Linked DNA regions of Homo sapiens: region 1 is linked to region 2. The links come from fine-mapping of genetic effects on gene expression. A gene starts in region 2. The other region holds a variant in brackets. All regions are shown on one strand. Distances are from middle to middle. Region 1 overlaps ADPRHL1 (ADP-ribosylhydrolase like 1). Region 2 holds the start of ADPRHL1 (ADP-ribosylhydrolase like 1).

Evidence for each region. PIP is the estimated chance that this variant, and not a neighbour inherited with it, causes the effect.
Region 1: its variant is fine-mapped to the expression of ADPRHL1 in monocytes after LPS (Quach 2016, PIP 0.95).

The regions. Positions count from the first base shown.
Region 1 is chr13:113,393,979-113,409,495 of GRCh38, reverse strand. It overlaps ADPRHL1 (ADP-ribosylhydrolase like 1), which reads left to right. Exons shown (of 8, transcript NM_001394807.1): 8 at 1,276-9,885. The coding sequence ends at 6,118. Among named protein-coding and RNA genes, the nearest start is that of GRTP1, 38 kb to the right of the region's middle. RefSeq lists enhancers at 1,519-2,204, 3,322-4,116, 15,492-15,517 and silencers at 11,168-11,462, 15,105-15,214, 15,225-15,517. The variant T/C (reference allele first, on the strand shown) is at 9,052.
Region 2 is chr13:113,447,756-113,463,272 of GRCh38, reverse strand. ADPRHL1 (ADP-ribosylhydrolase like 1) reads left to right here and starts at 9,785. Exons shown (of 8, transcript NM_001394807.1): 1 at 9,785-10,049. The coding sequence starts at 9,836. DCUN1D2 (defective in cullin neddylation 1 domain containing 2) reads left to right here. Exons shown (of 7, transcript NM_001014283.2): 5 at 2,137-2,219; 6 at 3,865-3,961; 7 at 5,165-7,454. The coding sequence ends at 5,244. RefSeq lists enhancers at 6,325-7,255, 11,252-11,753, 13,755-14,114.

The sequences.
Region 1 (15,517 bases), 54 kb after region 2:
TGCGGCCGCCCTGGAGTTGGACATCGAGGATGCTCTAGATTTTTCAACATTATAAACGGCACCATGAAGGCGACTTTTCCTGTAATACTCGAGTCTTTGTTCCTCATCCCTGATGATCTCCTTAGAATGAATGACTAACAGGTGTGACAGCTAAGATTCTGGGTGCGTCTACCCAAAATTATCATCTGGGGAGGTCAGAGACGGCTCCACCCCCTGCCACAGATGGGGAGACCTTCCAGCTTTGCTCCTGTGGTCACGGCTGCTCAGGAGCAGAACTTACCCCGGACCCAGGCTCAGAAAACACCATCAAATCACAAAGACCCTGTCTCTCCAGCCAAGACCCATTTGGTCCCGTCTCTTTGAAAGCTGGGCTGGTGGGAAGGAATCCCTGGTGAACCTGCAGAAAAACATCTCACTGGGAAAGGGCGGCAGCCCCCAGCCTCAGTGGCTCCTCTAAGCCATTTTGAAAGGGGTTCCGGAGACCCAGCCAAGTGATCCCAGCCCTCCTCCCTCCTCTCTGCAGCCCCCTCTTTCCTCCCTCTCTGCAACCTCCCCTCCTCTCTGCAACCCGCTCCTCCCCTCCTTTCAGTAGCCCCATCTTTCCCTCCTCTCTGCAGCCCCCTCCTCCCTTCCTCTCTGCAGCCCCCTCCTCCCCTGCTCCTGGTGGGCACTGCCCACTGCAGTGCTGGTTCCTGCCCAGGAGCTTGTGAGGAAACTCTTTCTGCCTTCTCCGCCCACCCCAAGCCTGAGCGGTTTGCTGAATCTTCAGTCTCTGCTGTAGGGACCCAGGTCCCTGGGATCATGGCAGAATTTAAATATGCTGTTAATTTTATCTTTCATACTTAAAGGTAGAGACATACACAGTCCACACAGAGAATAGACACTTCTTTATATGTGCTTTTTTACCTACTGTACAAGCAAAGTATGTTTGTTAAAATTTTCTTTTAATATGTTGCATATGCAAAGTGGTTTTCCAAACGCTTTCACTAAACTGTTCAATGTCAACTCCTCAATGCCCTTAGGAGGAGCGTGTGTCAGAAGTTCCTGCCATTTAACAGGAAACAGTGACCCAGAAAAGCTTTGGCATCCCTGCCAACCCCGAATTAACAGCAGAGACAGCCCAGAAGCCACAGCTCCTGGCTCCTAATCTCTTTTTCTCCCTACCAGACTTTTGGGGCCCCTGAAAAGGTGGGATTGCCCCATGATAAATGTTCTATAGAGTCATCTTGGAGAAAAATGATGATGAAGTAGGTGATGATTCCTTTTTCTCTGCAGCCGGAAGAGCAGCAAGACCTGCAGTGACGTCATGTCTGTGGACGCCCAAACCCTGAAGAAGAAGATGGGCAAGCTGGCCTGTGACCCGGCCGCCCACTCCATCCTCAGCAGCCTGCTGCTCTACGTCACGGGCCGCGCAGACCGGCCCCCGGGGACAGAGGCCGGGGGGAGCAGGCCCAGCCACCAGCCCCAGACCCAGGAGGCCACCCAGCGGCCCACGCGCTTCCAGCTCCTGCAGGCCAAGTTCCTGGGCACTGGCCGGGAGCGCTACCTCAAGAGGACCAGGGAGGTGGGCCGGCTGATCTCCAAGGACAAGCAGGGGCCGGGTGGGGGCCTCGTGGGTGCCACCATCAACAAGCTCCTGGAGAAGACCAAGGAGCCGGCCCCAAAGCCCTGCCTCAGCGAGAAGCCCCGCTGGGGCCACCCGGCCGGGAAGAGCACCGTGAAAAACATCCTGAAGATATTCTTGGCCGCCGAGGAGAAGGAGGCGAAGGAGAAAGAAGCACGCGAGAAGCCCCCTGTGGAGCGGCCCAAAGCCGCCAGGGGCCTCTTGCCGAAGATCATGGGCAAGAGCTCGGTGCTGTCCAAGCTGCGGGAGAAGTTCGAGCAGAACAGCTGCCTGTGCTCCGAGGCCAGTGCGCTGAGGCTGCACACGCAGGAGCGGAAGAAGAGGAACCTGCAGAGGAAGAGGATGCACCGGCCGGAGGTGCGCGTGCTGCACACGGCCACCATGGCCAGCACCTGCGTCAAGATGCCCCCTGCCCGCTTTCTGGCCTGCACGGCTGAGCCCCTGCCGGCCCTCAGCATCGCCACCGTCGTCTGTGGCCCCAGGAGCTGGCTGTCCCACTGCACCAAAATCAGCCACTCGGAGGCAAGGCGTCCACCCAGAGGAGAAGCCAGCGTGCCCCCTAGTGCCAGGGAGACGGGGCCCAGTGGGAACAAAGCAGTGGGAAAGGGGCCCCTGGAGGAGGAGCCCCAAAGACAGCCAAGGCCCTCGAAGCCCGTGACACCCCAGGTGATGGCTCAGAGGGACGGCCACGCTGTCCCCTCGCTGGCCTTCTCTTGTGCTCCCTGCACAGGTGGAGTCCTTCCTGGCCTTGTGCCTGCATCATCCCCACTGGGACCGGCCAGCCCTTGGGGCACCGGATCAGCCGGAGGTGATGGGACTGCAGACCCCACCGCAGAGAGCACCGCAGGAGGCGTCCAGGAGGTGAGGGGAGCCAGGCTCACGTGGCCTCCTGGGCCCCCAGGCGAGTGTGCAGGGGAGGGCCCTGAAATCACCATGACTGTTTGCAGTTCAGAGGATGAAAGGGAAGGAGCAGGCTTCCCAGACCCAGGGAGAGACCCCCTCTTTGCCACCCAGAAGTATTTCCCAGAACAGAAGGTGCCGGAGCACATCCCACCCCTGAACGCTCCATCGGTCCAGGCTGCTCGGAGAACACAGCCTGCCACGGAGCCTCCACGGATAACTGTCCAAATTCCAGTTGTCCATGAAATGCCAGCCCCTCCCACCAGGCTGCAAAATATGTCAAGTGGTGAAAACAAACCTTGTATTTGTGGAGGAGAGAATGTGGTTGAAAATGCCCACACAGAATTTCCCACCGTGACTGAGAACAGAAGGGGTCACCGAGCCCCAGTGGAACTGAGCAAGCTTTCAGGGATGCAGGCGGGACTCAGCGCCTCTTCGCCGCAGGGGCCACGGGCAGCTCCGCGTCTGGCAGCAGCAAGAGGGGCTGTGGGCGCCGACCACAGTGTCCCAGAGACACTTCTGACACAGAGACTCCAGACAGATCCTGCTGGCGGGAAGGAAAACAAAGGCAGCTTTGAGAATTCACACGGTCCCAGGAATCCTGACGATATTTCAGGAGAGAGGACCTCTGAGCTCAGAGATGTGAAGCATCCGTTGCCGGAATCTAATGAAATATCAATGCAGAAGAAGGGCTCCGCAACAAATGATCCTGCAGCCTCACAAAACCTTCTGAGGGGAAACACCAGCCATGCCTCCAGCAGCCAGCAAGTGCCGTCCCCGACTGGGAGAAACCCAACAGGAGCCCCCACGTCACTGGCGGCATCATCCAAGGGGCGTACGGGGCCTGAGGGTGTCACCCCGATGGGCATGACAGTGCCCGGTGCGCTGGAGGAATGCAGAAGGCCGCTGCTAATAGAGTCTTCTCAGCCCCTGAAGGCTGCCGAGGAAATCACCAGCCATGATGTTCGCGAGAACCCACTGTCCTCATTAAATGAACCACCCAAACCAGGTATGAAAGCCTGTGGGGCGATGGCAGCTGCAGGGAGCGTTGCGAGCCGCGCCACGCCTGCACCAGCGCCAGGCAGCACCCAGAGCCCTGGAGACCGCACAGCGGGAGAGCCAGAGACGCTGGGCCAGTGGGGAAGCAGAGCCTTGTCCGAAAGCCACCCCAGAGGAGAGGCTCTCCCTCGAGACCCTCACAGCCACGGCCTCCTGGCCCCTGGGGGATCCTTGGAGCCCAAGAGTGGAGCAGCAGGGAGGAGCCTCCTGAGAGGCGTGGCCCTCGTCCAGCACCCAGAGGACATTGCGACCCTCGCCCGCCACCCGGAGGATGCTGCGGCCCTCGCCCGGCACCCAGAGGCGGCCCGATTATACATTTCAAACACATCAGCAGCCAGCAGACATACAGCAGCTGTAGGAGGCAGAAAGGATGTGGCTGTGGAAGGAAACCTTTTGGGTTTCAGCACAGAGTCTGGAATTCCTGCTTCTGATCATCCTAGGCCACAGGCAAGGAGCGTGGCAGAGTCCCCCAGCTATGGCCCTGGCCTCCCGCCGTCGCCTCCTGAGAACCCACAGGCAAAGGGCAGGGAGGGCGTCAGGTTTCCCCGTGGGGCGGAGCCTGACCATCTGCTTCCCGCAGTGCCTCCCGCGGAGGTGGACATGGGGTGGGTAGGTGGCACCCACCAGCGGGGCCCTCCCCATCTACAGGCACACCTGCCCCCTACTGCTGGTGACACACAGGCAAAGCTCCGGGCCAGTGTCCCCGAGCCTAGGACGCAGGCAGGTGAATCCCAGGAGCGTCCCCTGACACAGGCGGACCTGGGGAGGCAACAGAGTCACCAGGCACAGGAGGAGACCCCCCAGCCCGGGGATGCGGGGAAGAGGGTGGCGCCGTCGGGCTCGAAGGTTGTGCTGAACCCAGCAAAAGAGCCTCAGACATGGTGGGCACAGGATCTGGCCGGGGACAAAGGGATGGCCATTGGGGTTGGGGGCGCCTGCCAGCGCAGTGACCAAGGTCAGCAGCATCTGCAGGGACCCTGGGAGGAGCGGGGGCGGAGCACGGCGTGGGGAGAGGGCACCAGGGCTGCCAGGAACCCAGCTGTGCCTCCAGGGGAGCCCGAGGGGCCGGGAAGCCCGGCAGCCCAAGGACAGGCCCAGAAACAGGTTCAGGAATGGGACCGGGGACAGGTTCAGGGACACGCTCAAGAACAGGCCCAGTGGCAGACCCAGATAGAGGCCCAGGGGCAGGCACAGGAACAGGCTCAGGGTGGGACCCAGGGACACAGTCAGGGACAGGCCCAGAAACAGTTTCAGAATTGGGCCCAGGGACAGGCTCAGGGACACGCTCAAGAACAGGCCCAGTGGCAGACCCAGATAGAGGCCCAGGGGCAGGCACAGGAACCAGCTCAGGGTGGGGCCCAGGGACAGGTTCAGGGACAGGCCCAGAAATGGGCTCAGGGGCAGATTCAGGGACAGGCCCAGAAACAGGTTCAAGGAGAGGTTCAGAAATGGGCCCAGGAAGAGGCTCAGGGACAGGCCCAGTGGCAGACCCAGATAAAGGCCCAGAAATGGGCTCAGGAACAGACCCAGAAAGGGGCTCAGGAACGGGTTCAGGGTCAGGCCCAGAAAGGGGCTCAGGAACGGGCCCAGGAACAGGCTCAGGAGCAGACCCAGATAGAGGCTCAGGGTCAGGCCCAGAAGGGGGCTCAGGAACGGGCTCGGGAACAGGCCCAGAAAGGGGCTCAGGAACGGGCTCGGGAACAGGCCCAGAAAGGGGCTCAGGAACGGGCTCGGGAACAGGCCCAGAAAGGGGCTCAGGAGCGGGCTCGGGAACAGGCCCAGAAAGGGGCTCAGGAACGGGCTCGGGAACAGGCCCAGAAAGGGGCTCAGGAACGGGCTCGGGAACAGGCCCAGAAAGGGGCTCAGGAACGGGCTCAGGAACAGGGTCGGGAGCAGACCCACATAGAGGCTCAGGGTCAGGCCCAGAAAGGGGCTCAGGAATGGGCTCGGGATCGGGCTCGGGATCAGGGCTGGGAGCAGACCCAGATAGAGACTCAGAGGCAGACCCAGAAAGGGGCTCAGGAACGGGCTTGGGAACAGGGTCGGGAACAGGCCTTGACAAGTGGGATGGCGCCTCGGGCCTGGGAGCAGCCCATTAGTGGCATAGCTGAGGGAGTGGATGCTGCTGGCAGGAGTGGGGGGTCCAGAAGCCCAGCCCCCAGGGATGGTGGACAGTCAGGGGGCAGTGGCCTGGGGGAGCCCAGCGCCGGGTACCCACCCCCAGGAAGCCGCCCCCTCAGGGGCAAGAGCATTGCCACCTCTCCCCTGGGGCTGGGAAAGAGCCCAACTGAGCCCAAGCCTGAGGCTGGGGGCTGCGGGACTCCCCAGGCCCCGGCCCAGGAGGGGTCCCCAGACCACCCTGGGGCTGAGAGGGCCCTGCAGGACAGGATGGAGGCATCGGAGCCCGAGCGTCGCGGGAGGTCCAGGCACCTGGCCAAGTACAAAGCCCAGAGCTTCCGTGACCAGAGGGCCTTCGATTTGTCCTTCAGACCAATGAGCGTCAGGGCCAGCGACACGTCTGAGCTCCCAAAGTGAGGCCCCGAGTACACACCGTGGCTCGCCCAGCACTGTGACATCCGCCCATTGAGGGACTTCAGGCATTTTCCTGCCTCCAAATGCGTCTTGGAGCATCCCCTACAGAGACGCCTGTTTCCATAATTTTCTTTCCCTTCTTCACAAGCTGACCTTGGGAGGATTGAGCTACATGTGGGTCGGGTTCCTGTCACCCCACAGAGCCACGAGGCCATGGGGGTGGGAGGTGCGGGCCTGTGGCCTCACCAGGCCCTCGGGATTCTTTGTGTCTTCACTCGGGGGCGCCGGCTCACCCCTCTCTCACACAGCCTGCAGCGTGGAGCTCACACCTCCCGCAGTGGCACGGTGTGTGCGTCCCCTTCGATCTGCAGGATGCTGGCACTTTGGGACACCTCCCCAGCTCTCACAGGGCCACCTCCCACTGCTCCCTGCCCACACCCCACCATGCCCTGCTCTGACGTGGCCGCATGGCACCCACCATCCATGGGCCCAAAGTGATGCACACCGCCCCACCCCCATGACTCGAAAGAAAGGGCAGAGCTTCCTCCAGCCTCAGACGCCCAGGTGGGTGCCGGGTGCTGTGTGGCTGCTGGGCCATGTGGTGGTCACCAGAGGGTGTGGGGACGCTGGGATCCCAGGCCGAAACCAGCTCATCCGGAGGAAGAGGCCTCAGGAAATGCCCACGTTAAGTTCTGAGAAAGGGACAGTGCAGAGCCGTGGGAAGCCAGGATCCCAGGGAGGCTTCGTCTGGAAACTGGGTGCTGGGAGAACGAACGGGAGCCTGCCCGCCCTTCCCTGCAGTCCCTGTGGGTGGTGCCACTGGTGCCGGTGACCTGAGAGCCTCGCTGTCTGTCCTCCGTCCTCCCGAACAGCATAGAAGTGTTTCCTGCCCTGGCCCGAGACGGCCCACGACTCCGGCCCTGTTCAGGTACTGAGGTAATGCATGTTCAGGCTGGAATATTTGAATGCTGTCTAGAGGCACAAGAAGGAAATCAAAGCCACCTGTGGTCACATTGCCTCGAGATGGTTTTTGTTGCTACTCTGGACTATTTTTTAGGCTCTTCCTCCATGCACCTATTTTAAAGCACATTCTTCCCCATGATGGAGCCATGCACCTCCGTGTCGCGATCCATCGTCCCAGGCCACTCGGTGGCCTCTGAAACCCGGACCCGTGAGGCCACACGGCTGCCTGAGTGGCCCCGGAGCAGCTGGATTTTCAGCGTGAACCGATGCAGCCTGTCGCCCTACAGCCCCGCACCCTTGTTTTTGGTGGTGCCCTCCCTGTGGAAAGTTAATTCCTGCTTTTTGAAGGTGTCTTGGCATCTTCTGCCTTTGCTACTGAGCGGTTTCCTGAAACAGCCCTAAGCGTTCGCAAAGGCGCTTTGGTGCCTGCTGCGAGCACCTGTTTTCTGACTCGGATGTTCCTTTAGAGGAAGGTGTTTTCCAGTGTCGGCCCTGAGAGGGCGTTCAGCAGGCGCGTCCTACCCACGCGGGGCTGAGGTCTCTCCTTCCAGGGAAGGTCCATCCCGGCAGACGCCAGTGGCTTTGGCTCTGCAGCGCCAAGGAGGCGGCGTGGCGTCATGCTCCGGGGAGCGCACAGGTTTCCTTCCAGTCGAACAATTAACTTCAGATCCAGCAGGTTTGACCCACCCTCACCTGCTGGGACATGCGAGTGCTGGTGTCTGGAAGGAGGGCCGGGCTGTGCTGAGCTCTGGGGGGCCGGTCCCCACAGCTCCCCCGACAGGGCCCCCGGGGCCTCCTCTATAAATCAGGGGTCCGTGCTCCCAGCCCGCTTCGAGGGGTTTCTGCTTGGCGTGTGGGTTCTAAGTGCGAGCTGCTGTGTGTGGAGGCTCCTGAGCACCGGGTGCCCCTCGCGCGTGTGGGTCCCGGGGCAGCCCAGCTGCACACAGGATGGTCCGGGGGTGCGGGTGGGGGCAGAGCTGAGCATGGCGTGTACTTGGCCACAGAAGTCTTGCTGTGGTGCCGCTGGACCCCTGCTAGGAGGACAGGGTCCCCTCTCTCACGAAGCACACGGACCTCCAGAGTCCCTGCCCCTGCAGTCCTGGGAGCCTGCAGTTGGGGCTGGAGTTGGCCTCTCGGAGCCACCCAAACGGAGAGGCCCATGAGAGGGGAGCTCAGGGGTCCAGCAGAGGCTGACAGAGTGGCCTCTTTGTCCTGTTGGCGGCCCCTGCTCATGCCTGGGGCGTCCTCCCTGGAGCTGGGGGAGCTCAGGGACCCCCAGGTCTGTGTGGCTGCCCCTGCCACTCCAGGCACAGCGGCACGGCCCTCACTCTTTACCTATTTGGAATTGGAGGCAATGAGTGGCAAGAACATGATGACAGACACGGGAGGTAAAAATATGTTCACTGGCTGTTCCCTTTATAAATAAGAAGTGGTGGGACTTGCGCTGCTATTTTTAAATAGACCAGAGAGTACACTGGAGAAGGCATTGAGTGGTTTTATTTTAAGTGGTGGAAAAAATGATGAGAATCTCCTCCAGATGACAGCTCCGGAAGTGTCGTGCCTGAACCCCTCTCACAGTCTGGCGGGCGCAGAGTCTGTGAGCGGCCAGGAGGCCACCTGCTCGACTGGCCCGTCCTCTCCATGTGCCAGATGCAGCCCAGCATGACACTGCCCTCAGCTCAAAAACAGCACAGCTACTCTGTGTGCAGGAAAAAACTGCCAGTGACTTCACCAGGATTTGAGAACGGTCCGTACGTTCACACTAAGCTGAGACAGCGCAGGTTAGAAGATAGCGCGGGGAAGTATTCACACTTCAGATACGACCATCACGGCCACATGGCTAAGGCCCACACCCTCCCGGGGTGAAATAACTACAGCAGAAGAATGGGGCGCTAACCACCTCCACGGGCATTTTAAATAAAACCCAAAGTTGTTTTGTTTTTTTAAAAAAAAAAAAAAAGAAAGAAAGAAAG[T/C]GGCCGGGCACGGTGGCTCATGCCTGTAATCCCAGCACTTTGGGAGGCCGAGGCAGACAGATCACGAGGTCAGGAGATCAAGACCATCCTGGCTAACACAGTGAAACCCTGTCTCTACTAAAAATACAAAAATTAGCCGGGCGTGGTGGTGGGTGCCTGTAGTCCCAGCTACTCGGGAGCCTGAGACAGGAGAATGGCGTGAACCCGGGAGGTGGAGCTTGCAGTGAGCCGAGATTGCGCCACTGCACTCCAGCCTGGGTGACAGAGCGAGACTCCGTCAAAAAAAAAAAAAAAAAGAAGAAAAGAAAAGAAAAGAAAACAGGATATTTATTTTAGCTTCTTAGTTAACATCATTAATTTTGTGTAGTTGAGCGACTCGTTGACTGCCTCCTCCCTGCAGTTTTTTACGGTGCCTCCGGCTGTCGACAGGCCCACTGTGAGCCGCAGGTCTGTGGGTGCAAGTGACAACAGCCGGGCGGGAGGCGGTGCACTCAGGCGGCAGGAAGGTCCCGAGACGGCGACGAGAATGTGGTCATGTTCAGGACACTCGCTCAGGGAGGGTCGTTGTCTGGGATTTTACACGCTCAGCACCACCTCCTTATTCTGTTCTCAGGGTATCTCTGCTGTTGGAGTTACGGTCTTTCGGTTGTGTATTAGGCTACAGCTATTTATTAAATTTGTTCTTGTTCATATTCTTCTTTGTATATAAACAACCCTAAAATGGGTTAGTCAGAAAAAATTACTAAATGTCATTTGTTGTATTCTCTCTGTATTTTTACTAACATCATTCAGCTGGAAATAATTTCAAAAAGAAATAAAATACCTTTCCCATTACAAATCTCTTCCTTGCATTGTTGAAGCAGCCGCATAAATGAAGTAGGACTCAGGCCTGGGGCGAGGGGCAGAGCCCCCATCGGGTGAATGTGGCCAGCCTGGAGCAGTGATCCTGGGCAGGAGGGAGGGTCTGGGGCAAGGCCCCAAGTGGGAGGAGAACTCCTTAGGATGTGCTTAGAGAGACAAGGCCATGCACTCCCCAGACCCTCTCTTGGTCCAGTCAAGACTGTGCCGGCCTCGGAGCAAGACCCAGGGAGCTGGACTTCGGCCACTGCACCTGGGCCGCGGGGGGCCAAAGGGCTGGGGTGTCCTCTGGGACACGGAGGGAGACTGGACAGAAGGGAGGGAAGGAGTATGGGTGCAACGGGCCCAGCAGGCCTGTGAGACACCCTCTGCCCTCCACTACTCTGTATGCAGGAGAACTTTGTAAGTGACTTTTCATGAGGATTTAACAACGGGTGGTTTAAGCTCACGCCAGACCTAGCTGGGAATGCCTGCATTCCAAACCCCTGCTGTGCCCGTGGGTGGCGCGGGTTCTTGGCATCTTGTGAGGAGGAAAGCTTGTTCCACTGAAACGAGCTGATGCCTCGTGTCTGAGAGCACTGGCCCGGCAGCCGAGGCTTTGGGATGGTGCAGGCACCTCTTGTCCTGAAAGAAAACCCCTGTCAATTAAGCTATGACACAGGCTTTCATTAGAACTTTTATTTTATTTTATTTCATTTATTTATTTTGAGACGGAGTCTCGCTCTGCCACCCAGGCTGGAGTGCAGTGGCGTGATCTCGGCTCACTGCAAGCTCTGCCTCCCGGGTTCACGCCACTGTCCTGCCTCAGCCTCCTCAGTAGCTGGGACTACAGGCGCCCGCCAAGACGCCCGGCTAATTTTTTGTATTTTTAGTAGAGACAGGGTTTCACCACGTTATCCAGGATGGTCTCGATCTCCTGACCTCGTGATCCGCCTGCCTCGGCCTCCCAAAGTGCTGGGATTACAGGCGTGAGCCTCTGCGACCGGCTAGAACTTTTAAAAGCACTTATTGAGGGCGTCTGTGAGACTGGTGTACATAGAAGTCTGATCAAACCCCATTCTTGGGATATTGTTATAAGCTTGGGGTAGACAAATGTTTCCCTGAACAGAAGAAAAAGCCCCAACCACAAAAGGAAGTGCCGGGACATTTGTCTGTTTGAGCGTCGGTGCATTTGCTGAATCTTTATGGCCGCCATGGATTTTTGACAGGAATGGATGTCACGTAGCCCCCAAAGCCCAGGACTGAGCAGCTGAGCAGTGCACGCCGTTTCTCTGACAGCGAGAGGACTGGCCTGGCTCAGGTCCACAACCCCAGGCGGTGTCTGGGAAGCCACTCGAAGGCACAGGAGCCTACTAGAAGCCCCATCTGTGCACACCCCAAACTCGTGAAAGTGCCGAGGCATCTTCTCCTAGAAGAACAAAGGAGGCCAAGCGGGGAGTGAAGGCAACAGTGTCTACAGTGGTCCGTTTCCAAGACAAAGTGCCTTGAATCGGCTTAAGTCAGCAAACTACAGAAGAAACAGGAGGTCCGAGGCCCCTGCCTGGATCGCCAGTGCCTGCTTGCCGGCCTCCCCTTCTCCCTCCCTTCCCCCCGGCCCTTAGGTGCTCTCACCTGAACTAAAGAAGTTTAGTCTAAGATAACAGTTTACTAGCCTGCAAAATAGCTGGCTTTGTCTGTTCTTATCAGCCTGCCCAGCTACTTAGGTCATAAGTCAAATACTTGAAGAGCCCCTGGGCTGACTGGGATTGCAATGCATTGTGGGCTGCAACAAAATGCAACAGGACACCCCTAAAAAAAACACCTACAGCCCCTGCCCAACAACCAATAGGTGACGTCCCAGAAGACTGTGACCCCAGAGTACTCAGCCTGTGAGGAACCCGGGGAGACACCTGTGCACTAGGGGATAAATTATTTGTTGAAACTGTGCTGGCTGTGGCTGCCCATCAGACACCCGATCTTGCAAGACCATCATCAACAGTCTCACTTTCAGCCAGGTGCAGTGGCTCATGCCTGTAATCCCAGCACTTTGGGAGGCTGAGGCAGGCAGATCACAAGGTCAGGAGTTCAAGACCAGCCTGACCAACATGGTGAAACCCCGTCTCTACTAAAAATAAAAAAATTAACTGAGTGTGGTGGTGTGCACCTGTAATCCCAGCTACTCAGGAGGCTGAGGCAGGAGAACTGCTTGGACCCGGGAAGCAGAGGTTGCAGTGAGCCGAGATTACGCCACTGCACTCCAGCCGGGTGACAGAGCGAGACTCTGTCTCAAAAAAAAAAAAGAAAGAAAGAAAGTCTCCCTTTCACTCTCCTCCGGGTCTCCGAGTCCTTCTTCTGGGTTTGGACAGATGAGTTTGTTTCTCACCACTTGAGACCAGGAGTTCCAGACCAGCCTGGGCAACATAGTGAGACCCCGTCTCTATTTAAAAATGAAAGTAAAATAAAAAATAAAAGAACAAAAGACCACAGGTCATGTTGTATTGAAGAGCGGAGAAAGAGCTGTTGAATTCTCTGGATGGCTGTTTCCTTACGGCCTGTACCACTGGAAGTCATGTCTTAATCCCCAACTGGAAGAAGGCGCTCAACCCACCAGCAAATCTGCACGTAGGGAAGAATTTTCCAAATCTTGAAGAAATAAGAACCCAAAAAAAGCACCAAATAAGTTACAGATTTCCATTGCTCAATCAATAATGATGATGATAAAATAATCAAGAAGCCGGGTGCGGTGGCAGCACCTGTGGTCCCAGCTACTCAGGAGGCTGAGGTGGGGGGATCACGTAAGCCTCGGAGTTTGAGGCCAGCCTAGAAACATAGCAAGATCTTGTATCTTAAAAAAAAATGAATAAAATGTTAAAAAATAAAACAAAATAAGAAACTGATGAAATTCTTGGACTTTGATAACGGCAGGAAGCCGCACACATACAGGAAGAACAAAGTCCAGAAAGAGCTGACGGTGGACGCCCAAGAGAAGAGGCGGCTTCTGCGAGCTCTGTGTCGTTAGGAAGGGAACTCGGCTTCATTTCAAATTCCAAAGGGGCTCAAACATATGAATAAGACCCCAGTCTTTCATGGGAGCCCCAAAAGTGGGGCTATTTTTCTACGTTTTGACAGCTCCCCACAACATGAATCCTGTCTTCTCTCTGCACGGCAGTCCCACATCCCACATCCCCAGCCTTCCTTGCTGCTGGGACGCATGCAGCTCTGCCAGGGAGACGCAACCTCCCCAGGCCGGCAGGGCACAGCAGGTTCTGGGCCCACGGTGAGGACGAGCCGGTGATATGGAGTCTCCTGGGTGTGCAGAGAAAGATGTTTCCAGGGAAGCTGAGAGAAGGAAGCTCATTAGCCAGTGCAGAGCTGGGCTTGGAGGCCTTTCCTCTAGTCCTGCAAGGAGCTGGGAGCTGTCACACTGCTCACCATGTCCCTTTCTGCTCAAATTCCCCAGGATGGATTCTGCCCCCTGCACTCAAGAAAACACAGGGGGCCGGGCGCGGTGGCTCACGCCTGTTATCCCAGCACTTTGGGAGGCCAAGAAAGGCGGATCACGAGGTCAGGAGATAGAGACCATCCTGGCTAACACGGTGAAACCCCGTCTCTACTAAAAATACAAAAAAATTAGCCGGGCGTGGTGGTGGGTGCCTGTGGTTCCGGCTACTCGGGAGGCTGAGGCAGGAGAATGGCGTGAACCTGGTAGGCGGAGCTTGCAGTGAGCCGAGATTGTGCCACTGCACTCCAGCCTGGACGACAGAGCAAGACTCCGTCTCAAAAAAAAAAAAAAAAAAAAAAAAAGAACACACAGGGGCGCCCCCATCAAAACCCACAGCAGACGTGCTGTATCGGACCACATACTGGAGCACACGGGGCTGTCCCCATCAACATCCACGGTGGACGTGCCGTATCGGACCACATACTGCGTGCGTGGTGGTCAAAGACATGAAGTTGAACTCTCATGGGTCTATCAAGTTGAGAACCAAAACCCCCAATTTTTAAAAGGAATCGGTAACACTCACTACCTCTGAGGATGTACGGAGACAGTCATTCCTGATGGGACCAAACATTGGCCCTTCCTTTTTATAAAGCAATTTGGCAATAATGTCAAGAACCTTTAGAAGGGGTGGCTCCTCAGCCCAGCAATTCCAGCTTTGAGAAACTGTATTTAGGAAAAGCAATCTGTCCAGCGTGGTACTACTCAAGATACAGCCATAAGTGACACAAATGTCCACCAATTAAGAGATTAGTTGGCCAGGCGCGGTGGCTCACGCCTGTAATCCCAGCACTTTGGGAGGCCGAGGCGGGCGGATCACGAAGTCAGGAGTTCAAGACCAGCCTGGCCAACACAGTGAAACCCCGTGTCTACTAAAAATACAAAAAATTAGCTGGGCGTGGTGGCGGGCACCTGTAATCCCAGCTACTAGGGAGGCTGAGGCAGGAGAATCGCTTGAACCCAGGAGGCGGAGGTTGCGGTGAGACGAGATCACACCATTGCACTCCAGCCTGGGCAACATTGCAAGACTCCCTCTCAAAAAAAAAAAAGAGATTAGTTAAATAAAGTGTGGTGTCTTATTCAGTGAAATAGCAGTCATTTAAAATTAGCTGAGGAAGAACTTTGTGAAATGGAAAATATTGTACCATTTAATGTTTAAAATCCAATATAAGGCCGGGCGCAGTGGCTCATGCCTGTAATCCCAGCACTTTGGGAGGCCAAGGAGGGTGGATCACCTGAGGTCAGGAGTTCGAGATCAGCCCGGCCAACATGGGGAAACCCCATCTCTACTAAAAATACAGAAATTAGCTGGACATGGTGGCGGCGGACGCCTGTAATCCCAGCTACTCAGGAGGCTGAGGCAGGAGAATCGCTTGAACCCAGGAGGCAGAGGTTACAGTGAGCCGAGATGGCGCCATTGCACTCCAGCCTGGGCAACAAGAGTGAAGCTACACCTCAAAAAGAAAAAAAAAATCCAGTATAAAATAGTAGATTCAAATATGTAAATACGTGTGAAGGGGGCAAAGAAAGAGAAACGCGAAAAAAGGTGAGCAGTGGTTATCCACGAACACCCGATGTGTAGGTGTGTTTTCCCGTCGTTATCTGTCACTGCTTTCTGCGTTAATTTAAATGCACTTGCATCACTTTCAGGATCAGAAAATAAAGGCCTATGTGTGACCCTGGGGCGCTGGCGGGGGCTGGACGGAGGCCCAATGCCCCTGTTGCCCATTGTCTCCAGGCTTCTCCAGGACTCGGCTTCCCGCCTCTCCTTTGGGGACCGCACGAGTCACTGGGGGAGGCTCCGCGGGCAGCAGGTCTCTGGGAGGGGTTGTCGCCCCCTCGGTGCGCAGGGGAGCGACGGGTCCCTCCTGCACCTGCAGGGACAGGCCTCGGGCTGCACCGTCCCGCGCCCGCCTACCCCGCGCCCGCCTCGCCGGACGCCTCCTGCCTGAGTCCGCCAGGGGGCGCTGCCGGCCTCCCGGGCGGCGGCTGCTGCAAGAGGAAGCCCCGGCCCGCGAGCTGCTGCCACATCCGGACGCCGCCGGGAGCCGCCGGGAGCCGCCGGGGTGGGCGGGAGTCGGGGCGGCGCGCAGGTTCCCGGCCCCCTAAGGGACGGTTGCCTTCCCCAGA
Region 2 (15,517 bases):
AGTAGTAATGCCTTCTTCTAACATGTTTTCACTTAGGAGATGGGACTTTTTAGAGGTTCTGGGAAAGAAAATAGCTGCTATAAAGATGTAGCCACCAGAGTAGCTGTTGGTCTTGTTTCCACTCTCGAGTCCTGCCATTCTGAGTTGTTGTTTTTGTTGTTGTTGTTACTGTTTTGCAAATGGCTAAGTCCATTAGGACAATATTAAACATTTTTATGTAAATAATAATAAATATTGAAAAAGCATATATTTACTTTTGATAATGTGATTGACAAACATACAAATCAGGTCCTTTGTAAGAAAAGTTTTTAGCACCAAAACTAACCCAAAGTAACTAGATTAAATGTGTGCCATAAAACTTTATTTTTTTTTCCTCCCCAGGTTCACCTCCATTTCTCAATGTGAAAGCTTTACATCATTAAGATGAGTTGAATATAGATTTCAATTAATGTTCTTCCTAAGTGATAAGGATGTAGACTTATAAGCAGGACAAGACTAATCATCTTCTTAGCATTTTACTGCGGGTCCCATCGGTAAGGTCTAGAGAGCTGTTCCATATCTCAGTTACTTGGCACTTTCTGACTCTCTCTTTCTTTCTGATTCAGACTCCAGGGTATTCAAAACTGATAAAGTTGGTCATGAAGCCTTTGCACACGGGGAATTTAGAGGCGTTTTATTTAAAGTGGGATTTGCTACTCATATGCCTCTTTCTTATCCCATTTTAATAATGATCGACCCTGGAAATCTTGCTACAGCTCCAACTTTAATAACTTCTGTTTAAGTGGGATTAAACCAGATTTAGAAAAAAACCTTTTGAGAAGTGTTTAGTTATGTACTTTGCATTTAAACTAACATATTACCTAACTTTTATTAATCTGCTTTTCACATTAATCTTACATAAATATAACTCTTCTTTTATTGCCTAAAAGTGGTGAACACTATTCAACATGATTAAAGGAGGTCACTTTATGTATTTATTTTTTATTTTATTTATTTATTTATTTAATTTTTTTTTTTTTTGAGACGGAGTTTCGCTCTTGTTGCCCAGGCTGGAGTGCAGTGGCGCAATCTCGGCTCACCACAACCTCCGCCTCCCAGGTTCAAGTGATTCTCCTGCCTCAGCCTCCCCAGTAGCTGGGACTACAGGCATGAGCCACCACGCCCAGCTAATTTTGTATTTTTAGTAGAGACGGGGTTTCTCCATGTTGGTCAGGCTGGTCTCAAACTCCTGACCTCAGGTGATCCACCCGCCTCAGCCTCCCAAAGTGCTGAGATTACAGGCGTGAGCCACCACGCCCGGCCGGTCACTTTAAAAAAATAGAATTCTGAACCCCTTTATATACTTGCTGTGTCAAGCATATAAAAAGAAATCGTTATCAAGCTTCTGGTGAGCAGAGAATAAATCAGTGTTTCACAAACTATGGATTGGAGACAGCCCTGAAACTCGGCATTCATATTCTATTAGACATCTTCAGTAGCAGAGATTTATATAGAAGTCGTGAAATAATCACCACCTTCCCGTGTGGGAAAAGAGGGCGTTGGCTTTGATTGATACGCAGTGTCCTGTGTAGATGCATCAGTGAGAACGCTTTCCCTGCTAGCTGCCGATTTGACTTGACACTTTAGGGACAAATTGGAGCCCTCATAAGGCCGCTGTAATTACTTGTGAAACAGATTCTGTCTTAGTTCATATAGCAACAAGGCAGGTCTATTTGGAGAACAGTGTGTCCCTTCCTTCCTAAACTGGTCCTTTGATTTGCAGTTCGACACTCAGGCCAGTGGCCTATTTTTAAAAACAAATGATACGCATTAATAGTATCCAGATCAGGTCAGGTTTAAAGAACACCCAATATGTGTGAAAAGGCAAGTCTCCAAAACTGATTAATTAGGGGGGAATTGTGTGCATATCCAAATAACTTAATATACAAATCCTTTTAAAAAGAGTTTCCCCAGATTTATAAAATTAGACTACGTACAGTTCTCAGGAGCACTTCCGTAGAGATTAAGCCTCATGACTCTTGGGTGAGATTGCCACATTTTATTAAGTAAATATTGACATGCTAAGAAGTGGTCGTTTTTTGTGCAGTAGAAAAAGAGAGTGAGATTTACTAACTGCTCTTTCTTTCTTTTTACCAGACTTAGAAATGGCTGTTGCGTATTGGAAATTAGTGTTATCTGGAAGGTTTAAATTTTTAGATCTCTGGAACACATTCTTAATGGTAAGTGTCCTCCTGCATCTCGCTGTGTGCCCACTGTGGAGGGAAGTCGGTAGGTATGAGGCTGCATGTAATCATCCACCTCAGGTCTCACACGTGGAGGTTTTCAGCAGATGAACATCCCACACAAAGATCCGCAGGTCCAGACAGGTTGCCACTTGGCTCTGTCACCTTGCCGGAGACTGCAGGGCTGAGCTGGGGCCACTCCGGGGCCTCCTCAGAACGTGGCTTCTTGGCAGTCACGGGAAGCTCCTCTCAGGCTGGGGTTCCTGGAGACTCTGCAACCCCAGCAGCCCCCGTGTTGTCTCCTCTGAGGACCTAGACGGTAATTCTGTCTTTCCACTGAGAACTCCGAATCCTCGACATGGTGCCAGCGCCACACTTCTGTGGACTGGTTTGGGCTCCGGAACTGCGGATTGTATGTGGCGGTGCCCAGCCTCTGTGTGTGTCTGTGGTCTGAAGCCATTTCTAAGTGTGTCTCACCATGCTCAGGAGGAAAAGAGGCCTTTGTGGACCCTCTGGAGAGACACTTTGCTGGTGCGGGGCAAGGCTGCGTCATGCCAGCCCGTCTTGCTGGCAGCAGGTGCAGCTGTGGGTTTTTGGAAGTGAGTGGCCACAAGCCCGGTAATGGCAGAGATGCCCAGACCTCTTGCTGTTCTGTCCATGAAAGTGAAAGAAGTGGTCTTCCACCGCCCAACCCACGGCCGGGCCAGGACCCGCACTGCCTCCCTTCACCTGACACCAGGTGACACAGACTTTGCCACTTAGAGTCCTGTGGCCTTGGGCACGTCACTTCCGCTTCCTTGCCTGGGAATGGTACCCAGAGAGTGTGGCAGGTGGAGGGCGGAGCTGTCTGTGGAAGGTGACGTCACTCAGTCCTGTGGGTTTGCCATGGAGAGACGTCTTTGCAGCTATGTGTTTCATTACATCATGTGCTGTATTACTTCTCTCGAAATATCCAGAGGTCAGTAATGCTGTGCCCACAGCCCCCTTACGCCTTACCTGGGGTCAAACCTAAGTCACAGATGTTTCCCAGAGAACCTCACGCTCTTGTGCGTGGAGAAGGGGATGAAGGCGCTCACAGTGTCATTGTAACGGCAGAATACTGGAAAAGCCAGTGACCATCCACAGGAGAACGGACTAAAAAATCAGAATATTGGTGCGATGGAGCACGGCTTTGGAGCCACGCAAAGGAACGCACATTCACACACGTCAGCCCGCATACGTTTCAGACATTATGCTGAGTGGGAAAAAAACAAGTTGCAGAAAACTATGTGTAATTTGATAGCAGTTAATGTTTTAAAATGTAAGACAAGCTTATGAGCTGTTCGTGAATATATATATACATGCAGCTAATGGGCAGGTAACGAGATTAAAATGCTGCCCTTCTATGTGACAAAACAGGAGTTTATAATTGTAATATTTAAAATGTTTTGTTCTTAAATAAATCTGCTTTCTATATTTGGACATTAGCGTTGTTGTAGCACTTAACATTTATACAGAACGCTATTACTTTTAACAATTTTATTGTACTTGTTCCTAATCAAATTAATGAACATTAATTGAAGATCGCTAGGCCACTAGAATATATGAGAGTTAAGCTCTGTATTTTAAACCTGGTGGGTTTTTTTTTTCTCTCATATATTAGGAACATCACAAAAGATCAATTCCAAGGGACACCTGGAACCTCCTGCTGGACTTTGGAAACATGATTGCGGATGATATGTCTAACTACGATGAAGAAGGTACCGGAAGTTGTGCTTCAGATGATTGACCGAAATGCTTACACCTGAGAACGTTAACTTCTCCTGCCTCTAGAGTGGTGACCCCGTCACTGAGATGGGCGTGGTCATAATACTACCCCCTTCCTTATTATTTTCTGTAAATCATACAAAAGAAAAATAGGGTTTTATATTTAGTGTAAATCAAGAAGACAGTCCTCTAAGCCAAAGCATTTCAGAATTGGATGTGAAGAGTTAGAGACCCCCATGGTGGAGCCATGGAGTTAGGTATTGGGAAACCACCACTCCCAGATTCTCAGTCCCGCATGATGCCTTAGGTCAGTTCCACACTGCACTCTTCAGGCTGACTCGGAGATTCCAGCTCCTGTCTTCTTGCATAAATATATCTCCACATACTTGTCTCCCCCCGTGTTTAGGACTCTGCGTTGGAGGGCCTTTGGAGCCTGCTGTGTGCTGGGCACGCTGCCACCTTAGAGAGGGATGGTCTCTGGGTGGAAGGCCTCCCCTCTAGGCTCCCACCCACTTTGCTTCCTCCCTGCCCCCTCGGCGGGCAGTGATCTGTTCTGGGCCCTGGCGCCGTGCCTTTAACGGGTGGTTTACGTGTCTGTCTGCCTGTTTTAGCTTCTGCTTCTCTTTGTGTCCTCCACACTTTGCACCGTCCCTAGATCAGGGGCACCCAGTAAATGCTTGTCAAATGAAAGAAGGGATCACTGAATCTCATTGACAGAAGCGCGGCTTCCAGGATTGAGGCAGCAGTGCAGGAGCTCAGAGGGCACTCAGGGCTGCCGGGGTGGGGAAGGGAGCAATGGGGTGGTCCCACTTGGGAAGAGCCGCAGGAGGGAGCACCCCCTGCTGGCAAGAATACCAATGACCTGAGGAACATGCCTCCTGCTCCGCGGGGGTCCATTTAGCTCCCTTCCTGAGCAGCTGGTGTGACTGCCTGGGGCACTCACCGAGCATCCGGGGCCACTGTGAGCCCACAGCCCCCTAGACATGCCAGCACACACACACCAGGGCTCCCGACCTGGCCGTGCTAGGGCGAAAGAACTGGGTAACTTGGGCTGGTTCATTCTGTGAAACACAAATGGTGTGGACCTCAAGTCATTTGGGTTCTTGAAGTGTAAATGTTGGATTGATGTGTGACTCAGTGCTTTGGAGATAAAAACGGTGCTCTAACGGGTTTTCTGTTTGCTTGCTTTCCTTTAGGAGCTTGGCCCGTTCTTATAGATGATTTTGTAGAATATGCACGGCCAGTAGTCACAGGTGGAAAACGCAGCCTTTTCTAGGCAGCAAGTTAAGCAGGAGTAAGATTATGAAATGATTTGTATCCTGCAAGGAGATTGCAGTCAGTTCCTGGGTGCATTGTCGCTGATTCCAGAAGTCATTCTTGACCAGCCATGAAACCAGAGGCGCCATCCCATTCTGCCGGAGGACAGCCAGCGGCTGCTTTGTGGACACCGCAGGAAGTTCCTCGGGACACGGCTGCTTTGGGATGTTTGGAGATTTGTCATCATAGCTTTTGCGTTAGGAAATTTCTGCATGATTTTTTAATATTTACAAAATACTAAGGTAGAGCCATAGCGCCGCCTGTGGGACCGCAGAGCATGCTGCGTAGCTCGCGCGTCAGGCGAACCAGCGTCCGGCAGCGTCCCGCCGAATGACGTTGCGGTGGCACTGGCAACACGGCATGTGTCCTCTGCAGGGCGCTGCGTTTTTATACACGTCAAAGCTGTTAAGAATGTGCCCTAAGGGAGAGGATCTTGTCGTAGAGTCTAATGTTTTTTAAAATTGGTGCCAGCAATTCACGATTTATATTTTTTGAATTACCAAATATCTAGATTTACCAGCTCTATTTTTGTTTTCATTTTCTCTAGACATTCATCTGAAAATCATTTTATGGTTCTCAATCCCCATGTAGCTTTGCATAGCAACGGCACACGTGGCACGATTCCAGCAGAGTTTATCTCACACCGTTTATATATCACTGGGCCTCTCTTACTTAAATATTATTTGACCTGCCTGAGAAGCTTCATAAAGTATGTTTTTTTAAAATATATTTTAATTACATTTAAAAAGACATTTTTCCATGAAAAACATTTATTTTATGAGTGATGAATTATAGATTTTAAAATCAAGGCCGGGCGTGGTGGCTCACACCTGTAATCCCAGCATTTTGGGAGGCCGAGGCAGGTGGATCACCTGAGGTCAGGAGTTTGAGACCAGCCTGGCCAACATGGTGAAACCCTGTCTCTACTAAAAATACAAAAATTAGCCGGGCATGGTGGCACATGCCTGTAATCCCAGCTACTCAGGAGGCTGAGGCAGGAGATTCGCTTGAACTCAGGAGACGGAGGTTACAGTGAGTCGAGATCGCGCCACTGCACTCCAGCCTGGACGACAGAGTGAGATTCTGTCTCAAAATAAATACATACATACATACAATAAAACCGAATGAGCTGGTTCTTTCCATCCTCTTGTGGTACCCGTAGTGCCCAGCATCCAGACCTTTGTGCCCCTGTGCACATTTGGAAGCTAAAATGTACATCGTTGTCTGAAAAAACCCAACCCCAAAACCTTCATCTGATTGGTGAGCTGAAGTCTGTCCTTGCACCATGTTATCATCTGTTTCTCGTGTCCGCCTGGTTGAGGAGGACCCACGAGTGCTGCCGAGGTGTGGAGGGCTGGTATTGAGTTGTGGACATCACTGTTGACCCTACCTCACGTGCCGAGACTCTCATGTCACAGGCGTGCCTTGCTGCCCCCCTGCAGCACTGTGCAGGACGTGGACCAGCTGGAGCTGCTGCCCAGCACAGAGGAGAGTCGCCGCAGATGACCTAGCTGCGGTGTGAGAGAGCATGGCCCAGACAAGCAGCTGGGTTGGCTTCTGAGAACAGGACTTACCCTGGGCTTCAGGAACATCTGATGGCTGAGGTTAGTGTGCTTGGAGGCTGCAGGACGAACTGTCGATGTTTCTTAGCAGAGATGGTCACAGAGGGCAGCAGGGACAGGACTGGAAGGGACCTGCAGCCTGCAGACCCCGCCTGGCCCCCGCTGGCTTCTGGCTGGTCCAGTGATGGGCAAGTGACAGACCTTCCCCAGGCTCTGCTTCCAGAACTCTAATGGGAAACTGGGCCTGTCTACCTTTAGAAGTCTTCGATTCTCAGAGAGCATTTGTCTAATACAATAAAAACTGGCATTAATACAAACCTCAAAAACGTGAGCGTATCTTCCAGGCTTCATGGATTCTTGACATGTAATTGTTTTGTTCAGAAAAGTTTATAGAATTCACATAATTCTGTATAAACTATGGAGATCCACAGTACTTTTTTGTTTTTGAGATTTAAAGTTCTAAGGGATTGTCAATAGATATCAAAATATTAATCATTGGACAAAGGCTTTTCCAAAAATTGTGGGTTTTTTTCTTCTGTTGTATCCATTTGAGTCCTGCATGCTGTGAAATGCTGAGAACAGAAGCATTAAATTGGTTTTTCTCGGGCGTGGTTTCCTTTCGATTCTCCTCAGCTGCAGGGATGTCTGCCTATAGGTGTCAGCATCCACGTCATTGTCCCAGGATGAGAGAACAGCCCCCAGCTAGCAACCAGCGGGCAAGCCCCTGCCCCCGTGTGTGGCCCGCCAGCCCTGGCCAGGTAACCAGGTCCTCAGGTACCTTCTGTCATTGCGTTGCCTCTCAGCGGTGCACCGTGCACCTGATGGGGTGGCTCATGTGAGGAATGAGAGATCTCACAATAGGCAGGATTTACGGGAGTGTGTCGGGGCAGGAGGTCATGTGTGCCAGCACAAACTGCTGGAAACCGTCCCTTATCGGAGGCAAACGGCCAAGCACGGGGGTCTGAGGATCATGTGCTACCTGCCGATTCACGGTGCACCTGCCAGCGTTCCGGAATCAACAACGCCAGCTCCTCTCAGTGACATTGTACATGTCATTGTGTTATTTTCGCTTGAAGTTTATATCCATTTTAGACCTCAGGCTTCTTGGGGCCAAGAATAAACTTTCTTCTGATCCTTGTTGCTGTGTCCACAGTTTCAGGTACAAAGTAGGGGCTCTGCAAATATTTGTTGGATAAACGAGCTAACCTTATCCCGTCCTGTTTGCTGAGGGAGCCAGCTAGTGCTCTTGGCAAAGGTTTCCGCCGCCTGCGAACTGAAGCGCTCAGCGAGCGGGCTGTGTTAATCCCCTCAGCAGCACACGCTTCGGCCCCACAGTGCAGTTGTGCCTAAAACAGGTGAGAGTTTGAACGAAGGGCCGCCCCTCCTGTCTGTCTTGTTTGGATAGGGACCCTGCGTGCATGCTGTTTTTTGTTTTGGAGTTTTGTTTGTTTGTTTGTTTGTTTCTGAGACAGAGTTTTGCTCTTGTTGCCCAGGCTGGAGTGCAATGGCGTGATCTCGGCTCACTGCAACCTCTGCCTCCTAGGTTCAAGTGATCCTCCTATCTCAGCCTCCCAAGTAGCTGGGATTACAGGTGCCCACCACCATGCCCGGCTAATTTTTGTATTTTTAGTAGAGACGGGGTTTCATCATATTGGTCAGGCTGGCCTCAAAATCCTGAGCTCAGGGGATCCGCCCGCCTCGGCCTCCCAAAGTGCTGGGATTACAGCCATGAGCCACCGCGCCCGGCCTGCATGCTGGTTTTGAAGTTTGTTTCTGAATCTCAGGATCATGCTAGCTGGCATGACTGTGCTGATGGCTGCCTCCACCAGCAGACAGTGGAGGGTGAGGTGAACTCACTGCTTGAGATCCTCCGTTTTAACAAGTGCTGATATAACGCCAGGCGGTTAAATGCTTCCTACTGTCTCGCTGTACACTACGAGAGTTTTTATCAGACGCATTTCTTCAGTCCAGGTGTAACTCTTTGCTTCCCCTGGGTCTGATGGAAACCAGGCCCCGAGGAAGGAGACGGGAGAGACACAGCCCTGCTGGGCTCCCGGCCTCTGCGGAGAACTGTCCTGGGGTGGGGTCGGGAGATGGACTGTTTTCCTAATTTATTTCAAACCAGGAACCCTGGCTGTGTGCATTCTGCCTCACCCCCCGTCTCCATATTTTTTAATATTCTTTTCATGAGCTAGCAGGGATGATGTAAATACACTGAGCTGACCGAGGGCCGGATGGGAGGTTCTAGTGAAGCCTGCGGTTTGCTGACGACTTTCCCCCTCAGTGCAGTCCAATTATTTGGGAGCCGTTAAACACCGCATGCTGAGAAGACACCGTCATTGTTCACACAGGAGCTAGATAGACTTTGTTCCCTCTACACTGCATTTTTTAAAAGTTTTCTATCAAAAACACATTTCATAATCGAAAAGTTTTCTAAATGATAAAACCGCATGTCACAGATTAATCTCAACATTATGTTGAGTGAAGGAAGCCAGACACCGAAGGCCACACATTGTATTTGAAATGTCCAGGAAAGGCAGAACTGTAGAGACAGCAGATGGGTTGTTGCCCGAGGGGTGAGGGCACGCCCCGCAGCGGGCGGCAGTGACAGGCACGCCTGCACACATCTGCTCCCGCATCACCCCACGCCACACACGGGGAAGTGTGCGCACTCCTTCCAGGGACAGCGAGAGGAGCCCCTGCTCTGTCAACGCTCTGAATGTGCTGCGGCTGCCGGCAGAAGCTAGCAGGCTCCTCTGCTGAGGAGCTGGTGCCTGTCCAGACGCAGAAGAAAACTGACACCTCCCACGTGGGGGACAGAAAGGTCCTCTCATTGGTGCCACCTGCAGAGATAGACAAGGAGCGCCTGGCCATCAGAGGACGCTCCTGACAGTGACACAGTGACCACTATAAAAGTCAGGCGGGCTGAGGAGGAGACAAAGGCCAGGACGCTCCGCAGCTGTTGGGGAAGAGGAGCTGCCTCCTGGGATGGAGAAATTTAAGGCTGCGATGTTGCTGGGGAGCGTCGGCGATGCTCTTGGCTACAGAAATGTCTGCAAGGAGAACAGCACTGTAGGCATGAAGATCCAGGAGGAGCTGCAACGTTCCGGGGGCCTGGACCACCTCGTACTCTCGCCAGGAGAATGGCCCGTGAGTGACAACACCATCATGCACATCGCAACCGCCGAGGCCCTCACCACAGGTAGGCTGGGCCCACCGCGCTCCGGTGTGCGGGCTGGAGGGAACACTGGCTGCTCGAGTTCTCCCAGTAAGCCTCCGAGAGCTTTGAAGGCAGTGCGGTCCTTCAGCGGATGGTGTTACCTGATACCGCTGCTAAAAGTGGCAATTTAATCTGAGTGTCCCTCAAATTTGATATGCGGCAGATCACGTTTCTCCTGTGGTTTCTCTGAGGGTGACAGTATTACTTTACTTTGCAGTTATTAAGATTCAGTTTTTAAACGTGACTTTTCACTTGTATTTGTAAAGCGTTAACTAGGCCTAGCACCTTCTGTTTCTAATAGAGTTAAAGCCAGTGAAGCCTCTCTCGGCCGTGCTGGTGGGAGTAGGGTGAGGGCTCACTTCTCGCTGCAGAGATTAAGCCTTCTTGTTCTGAATTCATTACAAAGGGATGTAAAATAAGCCAGTTTGAAATGTGAACCCATTAATACTGTTTGGGGATTAGTTCTAAATTCCAATGAATTAAAGTTAGAATATCATCTCCCAAAATGGTTCAGCTTGGAGAGTTGCCCATACACAAATGTGTTCTAAGAAAATGACATAAACTTGATTGGACGAGATTGGAGACAAAGCTTCTTAAAATACCTTTAAGTAGCAAATTGATTTTAGGATCAAGCTTTTGCATGAATTTCAGGGAAATGGCAGGTGCACAGACATGCAGTCCAGCTTTCCTACGAGGCATTTGCTCTTCAAAACCCCGTGGGTGCTGTTTATCATGGCAGAATTAAAATCTGAGGGCTGCAGCTAAGTCAATGAAATCTCACTTATGCGTTCACTCCACCATTCTGTTCATCTGCCATGGACGTGCCCAGTTTAGTTCTGTGCTCACAGCAGAGGAATGCCATCGAGCCTGTGGCCGGTCCCTAAATAACGGGAGAGCTGAAGCGCCGGCGATAAGATAAGGCTCCCGGCTTGCTGGAGACGGGGAGGCGTCCGACTGTTCACAGCCTTGGCGTCCAGGAGCTCCTGCTTCTGGTTTTCCAGGCGGCCACTCGTGTGCCCTTAGGACCAGCAACCCCATGCTTGTGCCCCGCAGCCCAGAACAGGTGCACCCCACACACAGACACCTGTGGGACACAGCTCCGGCTTGTTTTCACCGTAGACGGCTGGAGCTCACTCTTGAGTTTGGCTTCCTCTGGGCGTCTGATGCCGTGTGTGCGCTCATACCAGCTCTGCATGTCCCATTTCTGGTAGCACTTGGTGGGCGTTTTGTAAATGGCAGCGTCCATGGCTGTGGGTCTGGTCCTGCCAGGCCCGCAGGGAGGGCAGCGGCACAGGACACTCCAAAAGTGCACCGACGGAGATCGGCCCAACAGGACACGAAATTCACACAGTTAAAAGGGTTACGGACGTTTAGGGCACTGTTTTTTGTTTGTTTTTTGAGACGGAGTCTTTCTCCATCGCCCAGGCTGGAGTGCAGTGGCGTGATCTCAGCTCACTGCAACCTCCACCTCCCAGGTTCAAGTGATTCTCCTGCCTCAGCCTCCTGAGTAGCTGGGGCTACAGGTGCCCACCACCACGCCCGGCTGATTTTTGTATTTTTAGTAGAGACGGGGTTTCACCACGTTGTCCAGGCTGGTCTCGAACTCCTGACCTCAAGTGATCCACCCACCTCAGCTTCCCAAAGTGCTGGGATGACAGGCGTGAGCCACCATGGGGCGCTATTCTTAAGGAGGAAGTAAGTTTGCTCTAAGCTCTCAGGGTCCTCAGCTGTGGACTGGAAGGGAGGGTTCACTGTGCTGCTGCAGCGTCTAGTTTGTGGGTCATGAGAAAATACGCATCCAAGATCACCCCTGGAATTGCTTACTGTGGGCGGCAAGCCACCCAGGCACTGAGGCAAGAGACAGAGGACACGAGCTGTTCCAGTATAATAAAACAAGAATAGTTATACCAGATATAGATCTTAGATATGATTATATATGAATATCATTAATCATTAGTTTGTAGCAATTACTTTTTATTCCAATATTATGATAATCCTCGCTCTATAATCATAGCCTAGGAAAAACCAGGCCATACAGAGATAGGAGCTGAGGGGACATAGTGAGGTGTGACCAGAAGACAAGAGTGCGAGCCTTCTGTTATGCCCGGACAGGGCCACCAGATGGCTCCTTGGTCTAGCTGTGACGCCAGCGTCTGGGAAGACGCCCGTTACCAGGCGGATCGTGGTCCAGCAGTAGCAAAAGGTGGCAAGGAACAACACCTGCTACTTAGCAGACCAGGAAGGGGGGGGGGGTCTCCCTTTCCCCAGGGGAGTTTAGAGAAGACTGCTCTTCCACCTCTTGTGGAGGGCCTGACATGAGTCAGGCTCGCCCGCAGTTATCCGGAGGCCTAACCGTCTCCCTGTGATGCTGTGCTTCAGTGGTCACACTCCTAGTCTGCCTTCATGTTCCATCCTGTACACCTGGCTCTGCCTTCTAGATAGCAGTAGTAAATTAGTGAAAAATTAGTACTATCAGTACTAATAGTCCCTGATATGCAGAAATAATGGCATAAGCTGTCTTTCTCTCTGTCTCCTCTCCCTCTCTGCCTCGGCTGCCAGGCAGGGAAGGGCCCCCTGTCCAGTGGACACGTGACCCACATGACCTTACCTACCATTGGAGGTGACTCGCATTCTTTACCCTGCCCCTTCTGCCTTGTATCCAATAAATAACAGTGCAGCCAGACATTCGGGGCCACTACCGGTCTCCGTGCATTGGTAGTAGTGGTCCCCCGGGCCCAGCTGCCTTTTCTCTTATCTCTTGTCTTGTGTCTTTATTTCTACACTCTCTCGTCACTGCACACAGGGAGAGACCCACCGACCCTGTGGGGCTGGTCCCTACAGCTTACCCCTCTAGAAACCAAAGCAAGCAGATTTTTTTCAACTCACTAAAAATCAAAGTCGAAATTTCACTTAAGTTTATCTTTGTTCTTTAAATAACAAATTGTAGCCTATGGAAGGGGGTCTTTAAGCTGTGTTAACAATGGTGAGGGCTGGGCACAGTGGCTCACGTCTGCAATCCCAGCATTGTGGGAGGCCACGGTGGGCAGATTGCCTGAGCCCAGGAGTTCTAGATCAGCCTAGGAAACATAGCAAGACTCCATCTCTACAAAACGACAATGGTGAGTGCTGACTCCACAGCACTTCTGTACCAGGCATTGTTCCAGCTGCTTCACGCATGTTATCCTCCACACATGCTCCTCACATCACCGTGGAGGCTGATTTTATCACAATCTTACAGGAGAAAAAATTGACATACAGAGAGGTTCAGGCGCTTGCCCAGTGCCACACAGCCCAGCGAGTGGCAGAGCTTGGACGGGAACCAGAGAATCTGGCCCCTGTGCTCGTAAGCATCCTCCCTGACTGCTGAGATCACGGTGGCCTGCAGGTATCCTAACAATTGCAGTGTGCAGGGGCTCTTCAGCATGCTTTCCAAAGACAGGCAGACTTTTACAAATGGAACTACGTTTGGCAGCTTTAAGTAAGCTGCACTGAAAAGTCCTTCACCCCACGAGCCACGGGGCTGTGTGGTCTGGCAAACCCTGGCTCTGCTGCTAGAGTGAGCACAGGTCTGAGGGTCGGGGCAGCCTGTGTGGCTCCCTCCTTCCGGGTGAGCCTCTCTGAACCGGGCTGCCTCCTTCCGGGTGTGTCTCTCTGAACGGGGCTCCCTCCTTCCGGGTGAGCCTCTGAACAGGGCTGTCTCCTTCTGGGTGAGCCTCTCTGAACCGGGCTGCCTCCTTCCGGGTGTGTCTCTCTGAACGGGGCTCACTCCTTCCAGGTGTGTCTCTCTGAACAGGGCTGCCTCCTTCCGGGTGAGCCTCTCTGAACAGGGTCCCTCCTTCCGGGTGTGTCTCTCTGAACAGGGCTCCCTCCTTCCGGGTGAGCCTCTCTGACCGGGGCTCACTCCTTCCGGGTGTGTCTCTCTGAACAGGGTCCCTCCTTCCCGGTGAGCCTCTCTGACTGGGGCTGCCTCCTTCCGGGTGAGCCTCTCTGACTGGGGCTGCCTCCTTCCGGGTGAGCCTCTCTGACTGGGGCTGCCTCCTTCCGGGTGAGCCTCTCTGAACAGGGCACGAGAGCAGACTCTGAACCAGGAAGTAGCCGTGTCTAGCGCTCTACAAGACACATAGGAGAGGTGGCATCCATGGCCCTGAAACGACAAGCCCATGTTGCCAGCGCATTATCACCAAGTCACTTGGCAAGCGTTTAGCAGGTGTGTGTGTGTGCCAGGCCTGGGGAGGGGCGGCCTCGCACAGAGAGCTCGGCCATTGCTCGGGTATGCAGCTGGCCATTCCCAGCTCCCTACCCCCACTCCCTGGGAAAACTGGGGAAGTGGCTTCCCTCCCAGGGCCTTCCTCCCTCACAAGGTCACAGAGGATTAAACGGAGCAACCAGCAAAGTGTGAGGAAGCACTTAGGCCAGTGTGGGAAGTTGGTGCAGGCCCGTGTGGCCGAAGGCACATCTGACATGTCTCTGCCCTGAGGCTCACTCAGCCAACTTCAGGGCCCAGCAGGATGGCGGGAGGTGTCACCTGGCCACAGCCTCCAGGGCACAGGGCCAGCACCTTCTCAGCCTCTCCCGGGGCCCTGATAACTGGGAGTGGCACTTCAGCTCATGGCAGAAAACGTTTGGAAACAGTTGACATTTTGCTACAAGATCACTGGATGTTAGTATTTTGCCTTTTCTTTATTGAGACATGGGTTGGGAGACTCAGGCACCATTTTTTTTTTTTTTTTTTTTTTTTTTGGGACATAGTCTCACTCTTTTGCCCGGGCTGGAGTACAGTGGCGCGATCTCGGCTCACTGCAACCTCCACCTCCTGAGTTCAAGCGATTCTCCTGCCTCAGCCTCCTGAGAGGCTGGGCTAACTTTGTATTTTTAGTAGAGACGGGGGTTTCACTATGTTGCCCAGGCTGGTCTCGAACTCCTGACCTTATGATCTGCCCATCCCAGCCTCCCAAAGTGCTGGGATTACAGGTGTGAGCCACTGCACCCGGCCCCTCAGGCAGCTTTAGAAACTGATTTGTCTTTCAGGAGACCAGACAGGGAAGACAGGAGACAGGAGTGGAGTGTCCCAAAGGAAAGAGACCCGGGGAGAAGCCCAAGGGTAGCAGCTTTGAAAATCTGTTTCTCGCTTAAATTCTAACCTGAAAAGACAATGCTGTTTGTGCCATTTTGTTTTATGGCTTCTGTTTGCTTTGAAAAGGCTAAATTTCAGTTGAATACAGACATTTCATGTCTAATTCCAGAATAAAATGAATCCTTTTAGGGGACTCAGGAAGGGCTAGGCTTGTTAACCCAGGACTGAGTTGAGAAAGGCTGTTTGTGGATCCACTGTGCCGGTGACTGTGAGGGGCACACACTGGGTTTAGACACAGCCTGGACAAAGCCACGCAGCTGTACCCCCATCCAGGGGTTTCGGGTGCAGGCGAAGGTGACCTTAATTCCTGCAGGAA